2 separate regions of the Homo sapiens genome follow, and region 2 is reported to be linked to region 1. Evidence: microRNA targets listed by miRTarBase, many of them from high-throughput screens and not tested one by one. Region 1 holds a microRNA gene; the other region holds the end of a gene's coding sequence.

Region 1 (5,076 bases):
GGCTGCATCTAGGATACAGATTCTATATTTATAAAAAGAAAGGAAGCAAATGTTTATATTTATAGAAATAAAGTAAGACTTTTCCAGTCAATAATGAATAAACATTGCCATCATGGCTTTTCTCGGCTACGAGTTCTTCCATTTTGGTTGTATGTAGATGCTCTTTTTATATTTTTTCATTCTAAAAATGGCTTCACTGAACATCCCAGTGCAGGATTTTGGTTCCGGGCCCAGCAAAAGTAGGGCAGGATGTGAGAATGCAAAACGAAAATTGGCCGAAAATTGAACTAAAATCATCTCGGGCTGCGGTTTTTATATAAGGAAAAAATTCGAGGAGAATCCAATGTTCTCTGAAGTGCTTTCTATTCACTCTCCCGAGCAGGGATGAGTAATGTTCTGCGTGTAACAACTTCCAGTAGGAAGGAGAAGTGTAACTGTCCCCAGGCAACCTGAGTCACCACCCAGCTCCGAAGCTAAGCTGGAGGGCCACTGGGTATCTTGCTTGAGCCAAGTGACTGTCAGCACCCACAACGGACTTGCTCCTTGGTTTGCTTTAGGCTTTGGCCAGACCCGGGACCCTCCTTTTGAGGCACAGAGGGGACCTCGTGAATGCTCCAAGCGAGGAGATGACTTGAGAAGCTGAGAGCTGGTCAATCCCAAAGAACTTCATCCACGATTTTCTCCTTGAATAGTTTCAGGTCCATAAGTAATTACCGGCCCATACCTCTGTCCCAGAGAGAGTGTCAGGGGATGTGGAGGTGCTCGTTGTGGTTCAGAGAGGAAGCCAGACAGGGTCTAGGGCAAGGCAGTTTAATACAGTAGCCTCTAACCGCACGTAGCTATGAAATTCTAAATTTAAATTAACGAAAATTAAAGAAACTAAAAAATTGAGTTCCTGAATCGCACTGGTGCTCAAAAACCACTTAAGGGCAGTGGCTATCAAACGGCACAGATTGAGAATATTTCCATCATTGTAGGGAGTCTGCGAGGGTTAATTTTAGGTGTCAACTTGGCTGGACTGATGGATGCCTCAAAGGCTAGTGACGTATTTTTCCGGGTGTAGCTGAGAGGGTGTTTCCAAAAGAGACCAATGTGTGAGTCAGCAGGCTGGGAGAAAGACCCACCCACAATGGAGCGGTACCATCCAATTAGCTGAAACACACAGGTGGAAGAAGGAGGATTCTCTCTCTGCTCTCTCTCTCCCTCCCTCCCGTAGTGAGATGCCTTTTCCCCTCATCAGACTCCAGGTTCTTTGACATTTAATGGGGGTCTCTCTGGCTTTCCACCTCATATTCGGGGCTGCACGATCAGCTTCTGAGGTTCCTGGACTGAGTTTCGGGTTCTGAGGTTTCTGGACTGAGCCATGCTACTGGCTTCTCTGGTTCTCCAGCTTACAGATGGCTTATCATGGGACCTCTCCCCCTCTGTGATTATGTGAGCCAACTTCCCCTAATAGGGGAGAATCCCAACTTCCCCTAATAGGGGAGAAACCCCTCTCATATATCCTGTTGGTTCTCTCTCTCTGGAGAACCCTGACTAATACAGAGTTCTAGGGGATAGTGCTGGTTAGATTTTATATAGATGGAGTGTCCCTTATCTGAAATGCTTGGGACCAGAAATATTTGGGATTGGGAGTTTTTGGGATTTTGGAATATTTGCATCATATTTACCGGTTGAGCATCTCAAATCCGAATATGTGAAATCCAAAATGCTCTAATGAGCATTTCCTTTAAGAATCATGTTGGTGCTCAAAATATTTCAGATTTCGGATTGTTTCAGGTTTGAGATGCTCAATCTATTAACAGATGACGAATTAAAAACAACTGAGAGGGATTCAGGGTTCAAAGCTCCCCAAGCATTTCCTATCTCCCGTGAGAAGCTTTCACTTGGCTGAAGCTAGCAAAGTTTTCACATAGGCATTAAGGTTGCTTTTTAATAAAATAGTTTAATTGAGTGTCCTTTAAAGTCCAAAGACAAGGGACCCATATAAACATACACTGCAGCTGGGCACGATGGCTCACGCCTATAATCCCAGCACTTTGGGAGGCCAAGGCGGGTGGATCGCCTGAGGTCAGGAGTTCGAGACCAGCCTGGCCAACATGGTGAAACCCCGTCTCTACTAAAAATATAATAATTAAATGGGCATGGTGGTGGGTGCCTATAATCCCAGCTACTTGGGAGGCTTGAGACAGGAGAATCACTTGAACCTGGGAGGCGGAGGTTGCAGTGAACCATGATCGTACCACTGCACTCCAGCCTGGGTGACAGAGCAAGACTCCATCTCAAAAAAAAAACATAAAACTGCAGGAGGCCTGGGCCCCCAGAATCCTAGTAAGGAGTGGCTGCTGTTCACAGCACTGAAGACTTGAGATGGGTGGAAGGTGGGGATGAAGGCAGTCGAGGCTGTGGGTGGGGAAGCGGGTAAGCTGCCAGCTTTCCACCTTACTTCTAGGAATGCCTGCAGGGAAGAGAATGGGTAGGAGAAGGGGTAGCAAATGCTAAAAGGACATATTTGGGAATCTTGACCATGTGGTTAGGTAAGAATCCCTGATGAAAAACAATGTTGGGGAGAAGGTTAAGGGAAAGAAGTAGAATGCTGGAAACAGAATGATTGAGGGGCTCCTGTTCGGTACCTCCTTGCTCTTTCAGGCCTGGCCTCACTCCTGCTGCTTACCTCCGCCAGCAAAAACAGGGGCTCAATCACGTCTCTCTCTACTTGCAACTCAAAATGTATCAGCTCCTGAGCCAGCTTGTCCTCCGTCTCTCCACAGAGTTTCAGCATCTTCCTGTAATCCAAGGGGGAAAGAAATAGTGAATACTCTTGAAGACAACATTTCACTGGCGTTACCCTCCCCTCACCTCCTGGCTCACTTGTAAACTTTCACAAGTCAGTGTTAATAAGCTGGCTGATCTCCATGGCTTCCCCTGGGCCAACCTGTTCCAGCTCTCTGCATTTCTGAAATAATCAATTCTTCCAAAAGGTGCCACTCATTGTGTGCCTGGGGCACAAGGGGAAATGTGGGGAAACATGAGAGAGAAAACAGACACACATGCCTATAAACACATGCTTCTATCTCTGAGGAGAACATTGGATAGCTAAAATCTGCCCGCTAAAAAAACATCATCTTCAAATACAAAGCAAAAGCTCAATTTCAATAGGTCCTGATAGAAAGAAAGCCCTGACTCCTAAGCCACGAAAATGTAATTAGTACATGGATATATAGACAATTATCCAATGAAAAAAAATCCAAAAGTTGATTAATAATGAGCAAACGACAGAAGACCTGAATGAGTAGAAAGTCATGCCATCTTCCCAGATGACACAATATACTATTTCAAAGATGTTAAATTCTACCCAAATTGTACACAGGCCATTCTCCCATTGTCTGGTACCCATTTTAACTAAAACTCAAGTAAAAAGTTATTACAAACCAGCCTGGGCAACATGGTGAAACCCCGCCTCTACTAAAAATATCAAACTCAGCTGGGCATGGTGGTACATGCCTGTAGACCCAGCTTCTCTGGAGGCTGAGGCACGAGAATCACTTGTACCTGGGAGGCAGAGGCTGTAGTGAGCCTAGATAGTGCCACTGCACTCCAGCCGGGGTGACAGAGCGAGACCCTGTCTCAAAAACACATAAACAAACAAAAAAGCTTTTACAAGTCAACAAACGTATGAGCAGAGGTAACTGCCTTTTTACTGTGAGGATATTCCTTTCCTGTTCAGATTTTCACATTTTTACTCTACATGTATGTGTCCCCATACAATATATAATACTGCTGCTTTGCTTAGTTCAGTCTACATGCATGGTTTTATACTGAGCATATCCTGATGCTACTTGCTTTTTTTGTTTGGATTTTTTTTTTGAGGTTTTTTTTTTTTTTTCTTGAGATGGAGTTTCACTCTTGTTGCCTAGGCTGGAGTACAGTGGCACGATCTTGGCTCACTGCAACCTCCGCCTCCTGGGTTCAAGCCATTCTCCTGCCTCAGCCTCCTGAGTAGCTGGGATTACAGGAGGCTGCCACCACACCCGGCTAATTTTTTGTATTTTTAGTAGACATGGGGTTTCACCATGTTGGCCAGACTGGTCTCGAACTCCTGACCTCAGGTGATCCACCCACCTCGGCCTCCCAAAGTGCTGGGACTACAGGCAGCCTTGCTTTTTTACTCTATCATTATGTCTGGAGCTTACCCATGTTGGTACATGCGGAATCAGATCATTTTGCAATGGAGAATTTCGTTCTTTGAATATACCACCATTATGTTAAGCTGTCCCACAAACAAGAGTTTTTGGCTATTACATGCAGCGCTTCAGTAAATATGCTTGTGCAGTCTCTTTGTGCATGTTTGGAAATTTCACTAGCACAAATGGGAGTTCCCATTGCCCTATGCCCTTGCCAACCCTTGGTCCTGGTAGGTGTCTTAATTTCTGTTAAACTGGTGGATACAAATTATTATCTCCTTCTGGTTTTAATTTACATTCCTTGACTGCTAGTAAGACTTAATATCCCTCTCCCATGAAGTGCCTGTTCATATTCCTTGGCTATTTTTGTATTAGGATCTATTTATTTGAATTTATTTGTAGGAACTTCATATACACACGTGTGTGAAGGCAGATTTTCACTCTTTTTCCTATCTGCTACAAATGTCAGTGCCCAGGTGTGCTTTTATCTTTGTATGTCTTTAATGGTGCCTTTTTTTTTTTTTTTTTTTTTTGAGACAAAATCTCACTCTATCACCCAGGCTGGAGTGCAGTGACGCGTACTTGGCTCACCACAAACTCCACCTCCCGGGTGCAAGCAATTCTCTTGCTTCAGCCTCCCGAGTGGCTGGGATTACAGGTGTGCACCACTGCACCCAGCTAATTTTTTATATTTTTAGTAGAGACAGGGTTTCACCATGTTGGCCAGGCTAGTCTTGAACTCTGGACCTCAGGTAATCCACCTGCCTCGGCCTCCCAAAGTGTTAGGATTACAGGCGTGAGCCCAGGTAATCCACCTGCCTCGGCCTCCCAAAGTGTTAGGATTACAGGCGTGAGCCACTGCACCCAGCTTAATGGTGTCTTATATCTGATT
Region 2 (5,076 bases), not on the chromosome of region 1:
CCCTGTGAGTCAACCTTGTTCTTCTCTGGATCGAACCCCTTCCTCAACCTGCATTCCTTCTCATAAAGCCCCCCTTGCTATCCAGTCTCTATCCTATTCACCCAAAATAATGTCTTTCTGGCCTCTCCCTGTTTTCTTAACAGATGCAGGAGACACCAAACAGGGACTTAGTCCTCGAACCGAGTTTGAAAAAGATGAAAACATCAGAATATTCAACAGTATTAGTGTTGTGCTACAGGAAGACTAAGAAAATACATTCAAATCAACTCGAGAATGACCAGTCCTGAGAGAACTCCATCAATCCAGTCCAAGAGGAGGAGGACGAAGGATCCTCACAGGAGGACGAAGACCTAGACTCATCTGCAGAATCTTCAAAGCAGGATGAAGACCTACAATTACCTGAAGGATCTTCACAGGAGGATGAAGACCTAGGGTTATCTGAAGGATCTTCACAAGAGGATGAAGACCTAGACTCATCTGAAGGATCTTTGATGGAGGAAGAAGACCCAGACTCATCTGAAGGATCGTCAGAGGAGGGTGAGGAAGACTAATTAAACATGGAGAAACCAAATTGGACAAATCCTCACCACCAACGGTGATGATTACAATAAAATCAAGTTTGAGAAGCTGATGGCTGCATATATCTATGCCTGTTTTCTGATGGTGGGGGAGAAGGGAAGGGAAGAGGTAGGCATTTGAGAAGGGAGGGATATGAGGTCCTGTAGGGTTGGTGGACAGACTCACAGGTTGACAGTAAGCCAGACATTGTAAATAAGGCCTGGGGGAGCACTGATTCCTAAAGAAAATTTTCTTCTTAAAATTTCCTCCCACAGGAAGTGGAGATGTGTATATGTTCATGCAACTGTACCCGGCAGCACATAGTTCTGCTGAATGTACATATCAAAGGTATTCCCATCCCTTTTCCATTTGATATTTTCCTAGGTTAGAAATATATGCTTTATAAAGAGTTAATGTTCTGTAAAACACAAAGCACAATACAGACATACACAGACACCTCTGCTCACTCTCTCTAGAGGGATACAATTAAAAACATTGGTTATAGGGCCGGGCACAGTGGCTTGCGCCTGTAATCCCAGCAGTTTGGGAGGCTGAGGTGGGTGGATCACCTCAGGTTTGTGAGGTTTTCAAAGAAAGATCTTGATCAAAAGAGGGAATGTGAAGCTGACTGTGTGAATGAACCAGCTTCTCCAGTGCCAATGAGCCTCATTTCAAAGCAGTGGAGATAACTAGAAAATTGTACTGTTACTATAAAAGAATAACAAAAGGGGGAAATTGTAAGGGTAACTAAACATAAAATTGAGATTTTCCTGTTGCCAAAAGAGCAAGAAGAGACCTTCCCCATTTCACTTTCCTTAGAGCATTTCCTTGAGAAAATTTGTATTTATAAATTCTTCCTTTGATATGTAAGCCTCTGGCCACCCTATAACCCAGGAATGTCTTGAACTTGAACTCCAGGCCTCAAGTGATCCTCCAGCCTCAGCCTCCCAAAGTGTTGGGATTACAGGTGTGAGCTACCAAACACCGCCACCAGGAATGTCTTTCTTCAGGGCCATGGAGCATCTCTTTGAAAGGTGAACGTTGAGGAAGATGATGTCTTTGTCTCCCTGTCACCAGGGGAGTTTAACTTAGGTGCCTTGCTCCAAGCCGTAAGCACCTGCTTGTCATAGAGATATGAGTTTTATTTTTCCTTCAGATAAAGGCAATTAACTAACACAGATGGGTACTCCAGTTACTCGATGAACTTAGGACTTGCCTGGGAGCATTTAGTGTTCACCCTTGGCTGCTGCTGTACAACAAGGCCAATTACCTACATATCTGGACTTTCTGATTTCTGCTACCACTTTTTATTTTTTGTTTTGTTTTTGTTTGTTTGTTTTTGAGGTGGAATCGCCCTCTGTTGCCCAGGCTGGAGTGCAATGGTGCAATCTCAGCTCATTGCAACCTCTGCCGCCCAGGGTCCAGCGATTCTCCTTCCTCAGCCTCCCGAGTAGCTGGGATTACAGGCGTGCACCATCATGCCCAGCTAATTTCTGTATTTTTAGTAGAGACGGGGTTTCACCATGCTGGCCAGGATGGTCTCGATCTCCTGACCTCATGATCCGCCTGCCTTGGCCTCCCACAGTGCTGGGATTACAGGCGTGAGCCACCACGCCTGGCCTCTGCTACCACTTTTGGATTGTATGAAACACTACACTTCAAAGTGTGGGATCTGGCTTCCTAGACAGCTGTCAAAGGGGCAGTTGATGCAATCTAGAAGTGTAGGGGAGTTCGCACCTGTGGGGTAAATTTTGACCAATAAGAAAAGGAACCAGGAGTGAGAGTCAGGTACGTAATTCCCTCTCCTCTCCTCTCCTCTCCCCATGTACCATTCCAGGCATTGTTTCTCAGTATAGTCTGTCTAGAGGTGTCCTGTATGGCCCAAAGCCTGTTTCCTTGGGAATCTGAGCTAAAGCAATGGGCATTCAAACACTCGAAGACAGTGTTAAGTGTTGTGGAGGACCCAGATCTGGGCAGAGGAAAATTATCCCAATAAGAAAATGGACAATTTGAGGATGTGGAATAGAGGGAAGGACTAGAAGAACCAGTAGTAGTATAGCTTAGGGGTACTATTTTTGGAGAAAAAGGCAGTTCTGGTGATTGTTCCAGTGAATTGCTCAGCTCTGTTATATATATATATATGTTTATATCCTTTCTTTCCATCATTCTCCCCTATGAAATCATCCATAAAGTATCCTTTTATAACTCTCTATTGCCTGTGAAGTGAATTTTCTTTTTTTCTTTATCTTTTTTATTTAGAGATAGAGTCTCTGTTGCCCGGGCTGGAGTGCAGTGGTGCGATCTCGACTCACTGCAATCTCCGCCTCCCGAGTTCAAATGATCCTCCCGCCTCAGCTGCCCTAGTAGCTGGGACTACAGGTGCGCACCACCAATGCCTTGCTAATTTTTTTTATTTTATTGTATTTTTAGTAGAGAAAGGGGTTCACCATCTTGGCCAGGCTGGTCTTGAACCCCTGACCTCAGGTGATCCACCCGCCTCAGTCTCCTAAAGTGCTGGGATTACTGGCGTGAGCCACCGCGCCCAGCCTGTCACTTTCCTTTTGGAGAATAAAACATATTGAGTCTTGTGCCAAAATGCAGGGGAAGCTGCACCCAGACAGGTAACAAAATATTATATATATATAGATAGGTTTTTTCTACATACCAATATTAACGATTTAGAAAACCAAATTGAGAAAAATTACACTTATATAGTGACAAATATACATAAAATATCTAAAACCAGATGATTGGAGCAAGATGGCAGATAGATCCCGTGCCCCACTCAACATTCCATTGAACTGGGAAGAAAATGTTTTCAAGGGTCAATTCTCAAGAGTAGAGGAAAATAAGAAAACGTGTCAGTGGTTCACCAGAAATATTGAGGCATTCCTGGGAGATAGAGTAGATGTGATCAGACTGGTAGAGAAACCCAAGGAGACAAGAGCATCACTGTAGACGAGAGATGCTGTTTGAGACAAAGACTTACTCCGTCGCCCAGGCTGGAGTGCAGTGGCGTGATCTCAGCTCACTGCACACTCTATCTCCCAGGTTCAAGGGATTCTCCTGCTTCACTCCCCACTGTAACTGGAATTCACAGAGGCCTGCCACCACGGCCAGCTGATTTTTGTATTTTTAGTAGAGACGGGGGTTTCACCCTGTTGGCCAGGCTAGTCTCCAACTCCTGACCTCAAGTGATCTGCCTGCCTCGGCCTCCCAAAGTGCTGACATTACAGCATGGGACACCGTGCCTGCCCAGGAGATGATCTTTGTAACAAAGCCTCTGAAAAACTCCAAACCCTGAATCAAAAAAACACGGAGCTGGAAAGGGCCTTAGGATAATCATCAGGTAGGTTAATTTAAAAGTTCATTAGAAACATCTGAATCGGCCAGAGTCCCCTCCAACACCATCCTCAGATTGGCTGGCAGTAGCCACTTTTGCCTCTAAGATGAAACTCTGATAATTGTTCATTAAAGAAAGTGAAGGCCTGGCGAGGTGGCTCACACTTGTCATCCCAGCACTTTGGGAGGCTGAGGCAGGAGGATTGCCTGAGGCCAGGAGATCGAGACCAGCCTGGGCAACATAGTGGATGCTGTCTCTACCAAAAATAAAAAACTAGCTGGGTGTGGTGGCGTGTGCCTGTAGTCCCAACTAGATCGGAAGCTGAAGTGGGAGAATCCCTTGAGCCTGGGAGATCCAGGCTGCAGTGAGCTGTACTTGCATCACCGCACTCCAGCCTGGGCGACAGAGTGTGATCATGTCAAAAAAGAAAAAAAAGAAAGAAAGAAAACAACAACAACAACAACAACAACAACAACACACACACACACACACACACACACACACACACAAATGTAACGTATCAGAACTTGGTGTAACTTCAGCCCTTCACAAGGAGAGAAACACATTTGTGGAGAGGGGACCATGTTCACTCTTTATCTATCCATGATAGACAGATAGTCCGGAGCTTTATATACCCATGGAACCTAAGGAAAAATGTTGCCTGTCATAACTCACAATCTTCCAGCCACCCTTCCTTGTATCTGTCTTGTGGGCTTGGGGAACCAACTTATGGATCCCATCGTCCCAGGGAGAAAGAAAAATCAAATCCTTCATTATCTTTTTTAGGGTATGCTCTCCTCTATTTGCATGGAGGATACGGTATTCAATATCTAGTAGCCGAATGTTACATTTGGGTAATACAGAACTATATTGGGATAAAATCGAATTTGTTTCCTCTGAGACACAGGTAGAGGTACGTCCACACTGACCTGGGTGGCAGCCACCTCTTCCTGCAGTGCCAGGCAGGGCATGCTCACAGATCTGGGGAACCTCTTGCTCCTGGAGCCCCACAACCTCCTTCCTGGCATCCTCTCCCTCTGGTGGCTGTGACAGCCCACACTTGGCCTTGGGTCTCCCCTGCTTCTTTGCCTGCCCCTCTTCTGCCCACCCTGCATATCTCTGTCTCCCACTGTCCCTGCTGTGACCACGACTGCCTGCCCTCCCTACACTCTCTC

Evidence for each region. Region 1 holds the annotated microRNA hsa-miR-1269b (CUGGACUGAGCCAUGCUACUGG, at 1,352-1,373, shown strand). A microRNA usually pairs through its seed, bases 2 to 8, with sites in the 3' UTR of a target mRNA and lowers its output. Matches are read on the target gene's strand: a 7mer-m8 pairs with bases 2 to 8, a 7mer-A1 pairs with bases 2 to 7 and ends in A, and an 8mer does both.
Region 2: miRTarBase lists SPANXN5 as a target of hsa-miR-1269b. Seed matches in the 3' UTR shown: 8mer at 304-311.

Annotation. Positions count from the first base shown.
Region 1 is chr17:12,913,610-12,918,685 of GRCh38, reverse strand. MIR1269B (microRNA 1269b) reads left to right here and starts at 1,344; the gene lies at 1,344-1,418. ARHGAP44 (Rho GTPase activating protein 44) reads right to left here. Exons shown (of 21, transcript NM_014859.6): 5 at 2,675-2,786.
Region 2 is chrX:52,791,699-52,796,774 of GRCh38, reverse strand. It overlaps SPANXN5 (SPANX family member N5), which reads left to right. Exons shown (of 2, transcript NM_001009616.4): 2 at 144-631. The coding sequence ends at 287. Among named protein-coding and RNA genes, the nearest start is that of SPANXN5, 3.2 kb to the left of the region's middle.